Linked DNA regions of Homo sapiens: all the other regions are linked to region 3. The links come from fine-mapping of genetic effects on gene expression. A gene starts in region 3. Each other region holds a variant in brackets. All regions are shown on one strand. Distances are between the middles of the regions. Region 1 has its middle 50 kb from the start of EHD3. Region 2 holds the start of LOC124905983 (a long non-coding RNA gene). Region 3 holds the start of EHD3 (EH domain containing 3).

Region 1 (4,240 bases), 50 kb after region 3:
AAGTTTAGGAGTCCTCTAGAAGGTGAGGGACATAGTGAGAGCATGGACTACACTTGGAAGAAGTTTAGGAGTCCATAGATGAAAAAGAATTAATAGGAGCTCAAGGGAAGCAGAATTGGTTAACAAAGAGGTGACATGGGAATGTTCACAGGTTAAGAAGGAGTCGGTGGAGGAAAAGACCTTTACGGTGACCAACTGTCCTAATGCCCATATTGGGGGTTTCCTGGGTCATGGGACTTTCAGTGCTTATGTCAGAGGCGTGTGAACCAGAGCAACTCCATGTTAAATAGGAGCTGGGTAAAATCAGGCTGAAACCTACTGGGCTACATTCCCAGACAGTTAAGGCATTCTAAGTCACAGGATGAGATAGGAGGTCAGCACAAAATACAGGTCATAAAGACCTTGCTGATAAAACAGCTTGCAATAAAGGAGCCAGTCAAAACCCACCAAAACCAAGATGGCGACGAGAGTGACCTCTGGTTGTCTTCACTGCTACACTCCCACCAGTATCATGACAGTTTACAAATGCCATGGCAACATCAGTAAGTTGCCCTATATGTTCTAAAAATGGGAAGCATGAATAATTCACCCGTTGTTTAGCATATTATCAAAAAATAACTGTAAAAATGAGCAACCAGCAGCCCTAGGGCCTGCTCTGTCTATGGAGTAGCCATTCTTTTATTCCTTTACTTTCTTAATAAACTCGCTTTCACTTTGCACTGAAGACTTGCCCTGAGTTCTTTCTTGCATGAGATCCAAGAACCCTCTCTTGGGTTCTGGATGGGAAACCCTTTCCTGTAACACTTAGACCAGTAAAGTCCCAGGCAAACTGCAATGAGTGAGTCATCACTACAAAACACAAAGGGGACAGGGAGAGGATGGAGTGAGATAATTACAGGATCCTGGAGAAGGTTAACCTGGGAAAGGAAGACAGATATTTTTATATGCCAATTTTTATGACACTGAGAAGTAATATCTTGGCACACAAAGGACAGATAGGTTTATAAATCACAGAAACACGCTCTCAGTAGCTCAATTAGCTTGGTGCAAGATTAAACTCTTGGTCTCTCTCTGCTGTGTAGAGCCTTCTGATCACTGACCTTCAGCTGTCTGTCCTCCAGCTTAGGTCAGGCCATCACTCTGTTAGACCTCAGCCCTGACAAATACTTTGTAAAGCCAAGGCCACAGGCTGGTCTTCTGCTTTGGCTCAAAACACTTTCCCAAATGCTACAAAATCCCCTAAAGCCTACCCACAGAAATTCCCAGAACTTGCCTCTCCTCCAAGGTCCTCCCAAGCATCTTCTGACTGTGTTTCTTACTCTTCCTAACAGGTAACAGTGTTAGTACATTCATTACCACCAATTCACAGGTGGCTGCCAGCTCCTGACAATGCCCTTTTCTAAAACCTCAAGTCCTCAAGAGGGCTCCCCAGGGCCTTGGGAGGAAGCAGCCCGGTCTGCAGTATGTGCCATTGTGTGCCCCATCTTTCTCCCTGTTAGATATGAGTTCTAAGTTTCTTTTCAAAGAATCAATATGTCAGTATGTTCAATTCTTTGCCTTCTACTTTTAAACTTAACTTCCTCATAAAGCAACCTTTTTCGATTACCTGCTCCACCCTGACTCATTC[T/C]GATTACCTGCTCCACCTGACTCATTCCGATTACCTGCTCCACCCTGACTCATTCCGATTACCTGCTCCACCTGACTCATTCTGATTACCTGCTCCACCTGACTCATTCCGATTACCTGCTCTGTCATAACCATTTTTCCTGCCAAACCACTCACCCTGTCACTCTCTTTAAATTAGCCAATCAGAATTATTTTAGCCTGTGCAGTCTAACCCTAACCAGTAGGGGAACGACACAGCAGCAGGGGCCACGTGTGTCAGGGATAAGAACCCCTTCCCCTCCCTTGTCCAAGTGTGCACTCACCATTGCTCCATCTGTAAGGGTGCATCCTTCTATAGAAGTAACTTGCCTTGCTGAGAATTAAAAAGAGAATTTTGTATTCAAGTACAATTTCTTTTGTGGCATCAAAACTTTATTTATAACATCCCCTCCCACCCAGCCACTTCCCAGTAGAGCTCACATTCTCAAATCCCTTTGATGCCTCATCCTACCCAGCCTCCCCCCATCCTGGACCCACTTTTTGTAACAGTGATTTCTCAGGAGAAGTGCTGAGGCACACAATTTCTTTTTAGAACATCTTTTCTGAGTTTAGGAAATTCTCCAAACCTGGAAATGCCTCTCCCCTTTCAGTCAGGAGTTAGAAACGAAAAGGCATCTTGAAAAGATAAAATCAGAGGACCAGTGGATGGCTCCTGGCGCTGCTGCTATTAGCCCTGTGACTCTGAGTAGGTAACTTGAGAACTCTGAGTCTCCATCCCCTCATCTGTAAAACAGGCATTGCTGTGATCTGAATGTTTGTGTCCCCCCAGAATTCATATGTTGAAACCTAATCACCAATGTGATGGTATTAGGAGGTGGGGCCTTTGGGAGGTGATTAGGCCATGAGGGTGGAGCCCTCACTAATGGGATTAGTGTTCTTATAACAGAGGCCCAGAGAGCTGCCTGGCCCCTTCCACCATGTGAGGACTATCAACCAGGAAATGGGCCTTCACCAGGCACTGAATATGCCAGTGCCTTCTTCTTGGACTACCCAGTCTCCAGAAATGTGAGAAATAAATTTATGTTATTTATAAGCCATCTAGTCGATGGTATTTTGTTATAGCAACCCAAATGGACTATTGAGAGACAGGACTAGCTGGATTTCCTAGGCCGACTAAGAATTCCTAAGCCTAGCTGGGGAAGGGGACTGCACCCACCTTTAAATACGGGGCTTGTTACTCAGCTCACACCTGACCAGTCAGGTAGTAAAGAGAGCTCACTAAAATACCCATTAGGCTAAAAGCAGGAGGTAAAGAAATAGTCAACCATCTATCACCTGAGAGCACAGGGGGAGGGACAATGATCAGGATATAAACCCAGGCATTCGAACCAGCGGTGGCAACCCCCTTTGGGTCCCCTCCCGTTGTATGGGAGCTCTGTTTTCACTCTATTAAATCTTGCAGCTGCACACTCTTCTGGTCCGTGTTTGTTCTGGCTCAAGCTGAGCTTTTGCTCACCGTCCACCACTGCTGATTGCCGCTGTCGCAGACCCGCCGCTAACTTCCACCCCTCCGGATCCAGCAGGGTGTACGCTGCGCTTCTGATCAGCAAGGCGCCCATCCATTGCCGTTCCCTATCGGGCTAGAGGTTCGCTATTGTTCCTGCATGGCTAAGTGCCCGGGTTTGTCCTAATCAAGCTGAACACTAGTCACTGGGTTCCACGGTTCTCTTCCCTGACCCACGGCTTCTAATAGAGCTGTAATACTCACCGCATGGGCCAAGGTTCCATTCCTTGGAATCCGTGAGGCCAAGAACCCCAGGTCAGAGAGCAAAAGGCTTGCCGCCATCTTGGGAGCTCTAAGAACAAAGACCCACTGGTAACACTATGACAGGTATATAACAGGTATATATAAGTGTTAGCCTACTTATCAAATTAGAAGGGATAAATAAAAACAGATTGTCAATTCTCAGGCCCATTCTAAGAATTCTTATGTCCATTCTATAAGTAAGTTAGCAGCACCAAAAGTAACAATGAGGTGGGGTGCAGTGGCTCACAACTAGCACTTTGGGAGGCCAAGGTGGGAGGACAGCTTGAGGCCAAGAGTTTGAGACTAGCCTGGACAACATAGCAAGATCCCGTCTCTATGAAATTTTTAAAAATAGCCAGGCATGGTGGTGCACACCTGCATTTCCAGCTACACGGGAGGATGAAGTGAGAGGATTGTTTGAGCCCAGAAGTCTGAGGTTACAGTATGCTGTGGTCATGCCATTGCACTCCAGCCTGGGCAGCAGAGTGAGGCCCTGCAAGTTAACAATGAGTTAACATAAATATTTCTTGGATGGATGAATAAATGAATGAATGAATATGGGATTGCTCAGGTCAGTCAGACCTGTGGAGAACCTTAATATCAGTCAGGGCTAACAATGTGGGTATAAAAATCAGGCCAAGAAGTCACAAGTTCAAGAGCCCATGGTGGTGGAAATTTGAAGTGACTCAGTCAGCAGGCATGAAGAGAGGCAAAGTGTCGGGGTACCAGGTATGAAGCACCAGCCATAGAGGAGGCTTGACAATGGAGAAAACACCATCGCCAGTGACAAACCTCTTGAATAGGAAGGAAAGGCCAGGGTGAAGGGGC
Region 2 (4,240 bases), 32 kb after region 3:
CTCACCTCATTTGTTTGCCAGTTCAATATTCTGTTCTGCAGTTCAATATGCTGAATCCACAATGTAAACAGCTGTCCTGTGTGGGTGTCCATCGTAGGGTAATGGGAGCACCCACCATGCCCCCTAGTTGATACTGGGACCCCTGCATGGGAGCCCACCAAACATACCTAGATGTGAGCAGGCTGGGAGGGACAGGAGGAATGAGAGGTGGGAGGACCTTGGGACGTGATGCTCTGAGGGGTGGGAGATAGGGCCCTGTCTGCTCCTCCTCCAGGAGTCCTTCAGCCCTAAGGCCTTCCTGGCTCAGCCTCACCCTAGGAAGGAGGTGAGAAGTACCCAGGCTAACACTTGCCCTAGAAAGCTGTGGGTGTTTTTTGCATTTTTCTGCAGCAGACTAGCTGTGCTTCACCCTGTGTACTGGCCTCTTCCCAGCTTCTGGAGAGTTAGGTGGCCAGAGCCAGGGTAGGAGCAGAAAGCTGTCACCCTATCACCCTCTACAGGCCATGGAGAAGTTGGTGTTCTAGACTCGAAAACTTTCAAAATTGCAGAGACCTGCAAAGTGGAAGATATTTCTTTTATGGTGTGGTGTGGGTTGTCATGTGAAGGCAAGAGGAGCTCTTTCAAAATCGGCATGCCCACCTGCCTGCCTGTGCCTGCTGTGTCAAACCCTCGGGGACAGTCATGCCTTGCTAATGACAGGGACACATCCTCAGTAATGCATTGTTAGGTGATTTTGTCATTGTGTGTGAACACCATAGAATGTATATACACAAACCTGCATGGTAGGGCCTACCACACACCTGGACTATATGGTATGATGACCTATTGCTTCTAGGCCACAGACCTAGCATGTGACTGTACTGAAGGCTGTAGGCAATTGTAACACCATGTATTTGTGTATCTAAACATAGAAATGGTACAGTAAAAATACAGTATGAAAGATAAACAGTGGTATACTTGTACAGGGCACTTACCATGAATGGAGCTTGCAGAACTGGAAGTTGCTTTGGGTGGGCCAGTGAGTGAGTGGTGAGTGAGTGTGAAGGCCTAGGACATCACTGTACACTGCTGTAGACTTCTTTAGAAACACTGTACACTTAGGCTACACTATATTTATTTTTAGAAACATTTTCTTTCTTCAATAATAAATTAACATTTCTACTTTACAGACTTTTTTTTTTTTTTTTTTTTGATACAGAGTCTCACTCTGTTGCTAGGCTAGAGTGCAGTGGCGCGATCTCGGCTCACTGCAACCTCCAACTCTGGGTTCAAGCGATTCTCCTCAGCCTCCCGAGTAGCTGGGACCACAGGCATGTGCCACCATGCCCAGCTAAATTTTTTTTGTAATTTTAGTAGAGACGGGGTTTTCACCATGTTGGCCAGGATGGTCTCGATCTCTTGACCTCGTGATCCGCCTGCCTCAGCCTCCCAAAGTGCTGGGATTACAGGCATGAGCCACCGCGCCTAGCCTACAAAGTTTTTGACTCTTGTTGTAACAATTAGCTTAAAATGTACATTGTATATCTATACACAAATATTTTCTTTATATCCTTATTCTATAAGTTTTTTCTATTTAAAAAAATTTATTTTTTACTTTTTTATTTTTGTGTGTGCTAAAAACTAAGATGCAAACACCCATGCTAGTCTAGGCCTACACAGGGTCAGCATCATCAGTTTCGCTGTCTTCACCTCCACATCTTGTCCCACTGGAAGGTCTTGAGAGATAGTAATACACATGGAGGTGTCATCTCCTGTAATAACAATGCCTTCTTCTGGAATTCCTCCTGAAGGGCCTGCCTGAGGTTGTTTTACTGTTAACATTTTTTTTAAATAAGTAGAAAGAATACACCCTAAAATAACAATAAAAAGTACAGTATAGTAAATATTTACATAAACCAGTAAC[A/G]TAGCCGTTATCATTATCCGGTATTATGTACTCTATGGAAATGTGTGTGCTAGATTTTTATACCACTGGCAGCACAGTAGGTTTGTTTACACCAGCATCACCACAAACACATAATGCGTTGTGTTGTGTACAGTAGCTACAATGTCACCAGGCAACAGGAATTTCCCAGCTCCCTTATTGTCTTCTGGGACCCTCGTCATACGTGTGGTCCCTCATTGACTGAAACATTGTAATGCAGCACATGACTGTATTTTGAAAACTCTCCTCAGGTGACTCCGATGAGCATCCTGATTAAGAACCATAATTTGGGGATGACCTTTGGCTTCTGTTATGATTTGGTTTTAGTACCCTGTGCCCTGTTTGGTTTTTGTTTTTGTTTTCACTAAGTGGGGATAGAATGTGATTTTCCTACCTCAGAAGGGCGCTGGGGGAGTGAACGAGGTAATGTAGTGAAGGCACTTGCGGTGATTTTCAAGTACAGTATAACCCTTATTAAAGTAGAGGCCCACATGACCCAGTCTCAGAGGTACAGCATTCAAGAGACATGATTCAATAGCCAAAACTGACTTAAAGAGAAATGTAATGATTTCCTCTCTGGAATGACATTGAAGGGGATTGAAATAAATAGATCATGCCAATACTTGTTAAATTTCCCTTTCTTCCCCAGCCCCTACAACCCTTCTACCCCCTACTGAAAAATCCCATCATCAGCCCAGTGGGCCTTTATTCCCCTCCTCTCTCATACCTTCGATTACCACGTGATGTCCATCAGCTGAGCCTCTAGGTCACAGGTCTTTCATTGTAGAAAGGGATCAGCTGTGAACATTCTGGTGCTCATAGGAGGCACGTGATAAATGGAGGGCTCTCCTTTCATCGTATCCTATCTTCATCCTCTCTCCTCCTCTTCCCAGGACCAGCTGCAGGCCCAGGACTTTAGCAAGTTCCAGCCGCTGAAGAGCAAGCTGCTGGAGGTAGTGGACGACATGCTGGCCCATGACATTGCCCAGCTCATGGTGCTAGTGCGCCAGGAGGAGTCACAGCGGCCCATCCAGATGGTGAAGGGCGGAGCGTTCGAGGGCACCCTGCACGGCCCCTTTGGGCATGGCTATGGGGAGGGGGCTGGAGAAGGTATCGATGATGCTGAGTGGGTGGTGGCCAGGGACAAGCCCATGTACGACGAGATCTTCTACACCCTGTCACCGGTGGATGGCAAGATCACAGGCGCTAATGCCAAGAAGGAGATGGTGCGCTCCAAGCTGCCCAACAGTGTGCTGGGCAAGATCTGGAAGCTGGCCGACATTGACAAGGATGGCATGCTGGACGACGACGAGTTTGCACTGGCCAACCACCTCATCAAAGTCAAGCTGGAGGGGCACGAGCTGCCCAACGAGCTGCCTGCCCACCTCCTGCCCCCGTCCAAGAGGAAAGTTGCCGAGTGATGGGGTGGGGGGACATTCAGACGGGCAGTGTTAGAGGAGGAGATGGGAGCGGTGACTACACACACACACACACACACACACACACACACAAACATGCACACACACATATGCATATCTTGACATTGCTCTGTAGGTGAGAGAGGACCATGACGCCCATGTTTGCAGCTGATACTTGTTTGGGCACACCTCCAAGTTCTCGGGATTAGAAGGACAAGAGCACTCCCAGGCCCCAGAGTCTAAGCCTAAGTCTCTATCGCTCTTCCCCTCTCCTCGGCCACTCCCCAGATACCAGACCTGAGGCAATTCACTTGCCAGCACAGATGGCCAACCCACCTCCAGATTCCCCAGTGCTTCCACACCCGGGCTCTGAGCAAATGGAAAAGACTTTTCATTTAGTAGACAATTCACTTCTTTTTCTGTGCTTCCCCTATCTGCTTTGGCTTCCTAATAAGAAATCCATTCAAGAGCTAGGAGATCTGAGGGCAGGCGGGCAGCTGCAGGGAGGAGAGGTGAGAAAGGAAGCGTCTTCTAGAGACATTGGCCCAGGAGCTCTGTTCTTTCCTAATCTAAGCCTCTGTCTTCTTCGGCAAACCTTGCTTTGAACTCTGCCAGTATTTCATTTTAAAGAATCCCAGAGCGGGAGAGAGAAGAGAAAAAAATTGATAAGAGTGAGGAAATTGTCCTGTAGTCTATTGAAAACCAGTCAAGGTGGTTTTAGTTCATAGATTTTGTTAGATGTTCTTTCCACCTGGCCTATGATGTTTAGATGTTCATACTTGACTCACATTTACCCAGCCCCTCCTGCGTACCAGGAGCTGTGTTAGGCACTTTATATACATTATTCTATGTGGCCCTCACTGATGCCCCAGGGAAGTATGCATTAGCCTTCCCATTTTGC
Region 3 (4,240 bases):
TTCTTTCCTGTCACGCTGGCCATACTGACCTCTCTCCGGGGACAGGCTCAGATCTCTCCAAGGTCCAGACGCCACTGTATTAACACCAGGCGTGGCACGGGGCCGCAAGCCTTGCTCCACTAGGAAGGCCAGTGTCTGTTCCGGGTGTTTGATTCTCATGCCTTGTGAGTTGTTAAATATCTTTAATATTACTCCTTAGGTTCGTATGTTGGTAGTAGCTAAACACCAAGGGTGAAATATTAATCTGAGTGAATTCTCAACAAGAGATGATCAGTTTTGGGGTTCAAGGAGGGAGTCGGGAGATCTGAGATGTAACTAAGGAGATTCTATTCAGCACTGGCCTCTGATAATCCCCCCTCCCCTGAAATCCCTGCAGCTTCACCACACTCCTCTTGAAGCTCCTGCAGGCACTTCAAACGCAACACGTTTTAGATTGAACACATTATCTCTGTCTGCTAAATCAGCTCTCTCTCTGCCTCCCCTAATTAGTGGAAGAGCTTCTCCAATGATCTTATCCCCTATGGTAGAAAATTCAAAATCATCCTAGACTGTGCCTCACCCTTATGTCCTCTTTTTTTTATCACATACCAAGATCTGACAATTCTATTCCATGAAAAAAATCTTTTGAGTCTGACCTCTTCTCCAATCCCATTGCAGCTGTCTCCTAAGTTTTGGAATAGTTTCCTAAATGGTCTCTTGGCCTCTGTATTCGTCTGTTTTCACACTGCTGTGAAGAAATACCTAAGACTGGGTAATTTATAAAGGAAAAAGGTTTAATTAACTCACAGTTCTGCATGCCTAGAGAGGCCTCAGGAAACTTACAGTCATGGCATAAAGGGAAGCAAACACGTCCTTCATAAGGCGGCAGGAGAGAGAAGTATGAGGAACCAAGTGGGAAGAGCCCCTTATAAAACCATCAGCTCTCACGAGAACTCACTCACTATCATGAGAACAGCATGAATGAAACTGTCCCTATGATCCAATCTCCTCCCACCAGCTCTCTCCCTAAACGCATGGGGATTATGGGGATTACAATTAGAGATGAGATTTATGCGGGGACACAAAGCAAAACCATATCAACCCCCAACCTCTTTTGCCCCTCCAACACTGCTCTTGGCATTCCAGTTCCTGCCTGGTCCATAGCCTACTCCTTCTTCATCTGTGGAAGGGAGGGTAGTGGGAGTCATTAGCCTGGGCAGGGAGGAGTGTTTTATCACTACACTGTTTAGAATGGTGCCAATACAAAGCACATCAACTTTCAGCAAGTTTATTATTGGGTTTAAATTCTCTACACACGATGCACTGCTTTTGCCTACACCTGGACAGTGTTCCCACTCACTCTCCTTAGTATGATGCTGGAGATAATATGATCTGCCATGAAGGTTAAATAAAGCAATGTTCACTGAGAACTTAGCCCAGGCCCCTGCACATGCTGAGCATTTTGTTAATGTAACAATGATTAGTAATAGCATTGCTATTGGTTCCCCATCTCTGGCAAAGCCTTTCATGCTTGGCCTCCCTCACTCTCTTTCACCTTCCTAAACCCTACACTCCAGCTATGCCAAACTGTTTACTCTGCCTTGGACACACCAAGTTCCTCAAGCCTTTGCAAATACTCCTTACGCTCCTAGAACAATGGATGTCAATTCATCATTTAGGATCCAGCTTACAGTCATGCTTTCCATGAAGCCTTCCTCAAATTAGCCACACAAAAGGAGTGACTCCTCCCTGTATTCCCATGACCCTCTGCTCATGCCTCCTCTTTAAAGCCTGCCTTCACTGGAGTTCCTGGAAGGGAGAGTCTGTTCAGCACTCATCTCTGTATCCACAGTCACCAAAATTGTAACTGCCCCATAATAAATTCCCAATACTTGCAGGGATTTTGCTTCTTGGCTTGTTTTGTTTTGCTGGAATGAATGAATAAGTAAATGGGAACGATTTTGACTTCACCCTAAGCCTAGCTAAAAGTTTGGGTAGTGACAGTTTTGGTTATTTTGTGTAACCTGATAGTGGATCCCCTTTCTATGCCAAAAAAAAAAAAAATCCCCCAATACTAGAGTACCTGTTTTCCTAGGGAATTGACCTCAGCAACTGAAGGAGAGGCGATTCAAAGCAGGGAGTGTGATGAATAGGTCAACTCTGTCCTCGCAGCCGTCCCTGAGAGGGCGCTGTTCCCAAATCGAAGCCCCAGAGGCGGAGACTGAGACACCGGCACTCTCCCACTGGACTGGGTCAGCATCCCTCTCCCCGCGCGGCCGCAGGTCTAGAGCTGAGCGCCTGCCCACAAACATGGCGGCGCCCTGCGCGGCTTCCCGTCGCCGCAACCGTGGGGCCGGCCCTGCCTTGCCAGTACTAGGGGACTTCCTCTGCGCGCCGGCTTCCTGCCCAGCTGGCATTTAAACCACCGCCTGGGGCTGCAGGATGCTGCTGCGGATGCAGAGCTGTCCGCGGGCTGGGCAGCGTCGCCGTCTCCCCTGAGCCGCCTCGGTCCGGCAGGAGCGGAGCCGAAGCATCCCTTGCTGCACGCAGGGCAGAGCAGGCGAGGGCTGGGGGCCGATCGGGGACCCCGGCTTGGGACCCCGGCATCTGGCAGTTTCCTTGCAGGTTCAACTTTAATTGCCAAGATTTCACCCCTCCTCCTCAAGCCCAGATTATTTATCCTCCCTCCGGCCTGGGCTGCTGGATGCAGCAGCGGCTGGGCTTGGTCCCAGGAGCAGGGAGAGTGCGCTCCCGGCCCTCCTAGCCGCGTGCCCGGGCCATGGTGCGGCTGAGCCCCGCGCTTGGGTGAGGCGGCGGCGCGGCTCGGAGCCCGGCGGACCGGTCCTACGGGACATCTTCCCCTGAGGAGGAGTCTTCCCCTGGGGCTGCGTGCCGGGGGCGAGCGGCGGCCGCGATGTTCAGCTGGCTGGGTACGGACGACCGCCGGAGGAAGGACCCCGAGGTTTTCCAGACGGTGAGTGAGGGGCTCAAGAAACTCTACAAGAGCAAGCTGCTGCCCTTGGAAGAGCATTACCGCTTCCACGAGTTCCACTCGCCCGCCCTGGAGGATGCCGACTTCGACAACAAGCCCATGGTTCTGCTGGTGGGCCAGTACTCCACTGGGAAGACCACCTTCATCAGGTGAGCCGGCCCAGGGTCCTGGCAGCCCACCCCGGAGCCCAGCGCCTAGTCCCTCCGGTCACTCCTGGTGCTCCATCCCAGACAGGGGACCAATGGGAAGCCTTCAGTTGAGGGCTCTGAAGAGATCTGTGTTTGTGCAGGCGTCAAAATCTTACCCCACAATTTTTGCTGGTCCCCCTTCCCATCCTACCCAATACCTGTCCACTCTACTTGGCCCTTGGCTGTGGTGGTCAACCTGAAGTATTCAAGTGTAAAGCCATTCCCAGTCTCCCCATCTTATGGATGATGAAACCGAGGCCCAGGAGGCACAATGGAAGAGCTCCTGGTCTCTGGAGCGCCTTATGTTGGTGGGGATGTCTTACGTCTTCACTTTTTAGCAACACATCATTCACGGGCAAAACCTCTTCCCTTGTTTTTCAAGGGGCTTGGCACTCACATGGGGGCCTCACAGTTGCAGCTGAGTTCTGATGGGTGCGGGCCTGGGAACGGAGGTGGCCTGGGGATGCTACTTGTCCTCCTTTTATCATTTCCTTCTCTAAAGCAGAGCTCCTGTGTATATATCTTGGAGACTCAACAGAAGCTGAGTCCAGAAGCAGAATGCTTTTTTTTTCCCCTTTCTCTTATTTGATCTTAATGGCTTAATAATAATATTAAAGACGCTTAGAGATGGAAGGGATATTGGCATTGTCTCATCCAGTTGCTGAGTTTGCAGGTGAGATAACCGAGGCGCAGAGAAGTTAAATGAATTGTGCAGAGCCATCTAAAGAGTGGGCAGCAGACCTGGGATGTTAAGTCCTAGATGCATGTGAGGAGATGCTTGGCTAAACGCCTGTAACTCTGAGAATGAGTCATCCATTCCCTTCAATTACAGAATCCTTGGGCTGGAGGGAGGCTCAAGAAGTCAATTTGTTCACCCTGCATTCAGAGAAGTCCACCAGAGGCCCTTCTTATCTTTAGAGAACAGGCTTCACTCCAGTCCTCAATCTTCCCAACTTCAAGGCCAGCCATTTTCTTGGCCCCTTTTATAGCCATTCCAAATTGTTGAGAATGCTGTGGCCCTCTGTCTTAAGACTCAGGCTCCCACAGCTTGAGAATGGAGTTTGGTGGCCCCCCAAAGTCA

Evidence for each region. PIP is the estimated chance that this variant, and not a neighbour inherited with it, causes the effect. A credible set is the group of variants that fine-mapping cannot tell apart.
Region 1: its variant is the best candidate, but not a certain one, in a credible set for the expression of EHD3 in esophagus mucosa (GTEx, PIP 0.54).
Region 2: its variant is the best candidate, but not a certain one, in a credible set for the expression of EHD3 in lung (TOPMed, PIP 0.71).

The regions. Positions count from the first base shown.
Region 1 is chr2:31,281,970-31,286,209 of GRCh38, forward strand. No RefSeq gene overlaps it. Among named protein-coding and RNA genes, the nearest start is that of EHD3, 50 kb to the left of the region's middle. The variant T/C (reference allele first, on the strand shown) is at 1,628.
Region 2 is chr2:31,263,363-31,267,602 of GRCh38, forward strand. It overlaps EHD3 (EH domain containing 3), which reads left to right. Exons shown (of 6, transcript NM_014600.3): 6 at 2,815-4,240. The coding sequence ends at 3,342. LOC124905983 (a long non-coding RNA gene) reads right to left here and starts at 2,578. Exons shown (of 4, transcript XR_007086270.1): 1 at 6-2,578. The variant A/G (reference allele first, on the strand shown) is at 1,904.
Region 3 is chr2:31,231,729-31,235,968 of GRCh38, forward strand. It overlaps EHD3 (EH domain containing 3), which reads left to right and starts at 2,424. Exons shown (of 6, transcript NM_014600.3): 1 at 2,424-3,120. The coding sequence starts at 2,894. It also overlaps a transcript of CAPN14 not described here.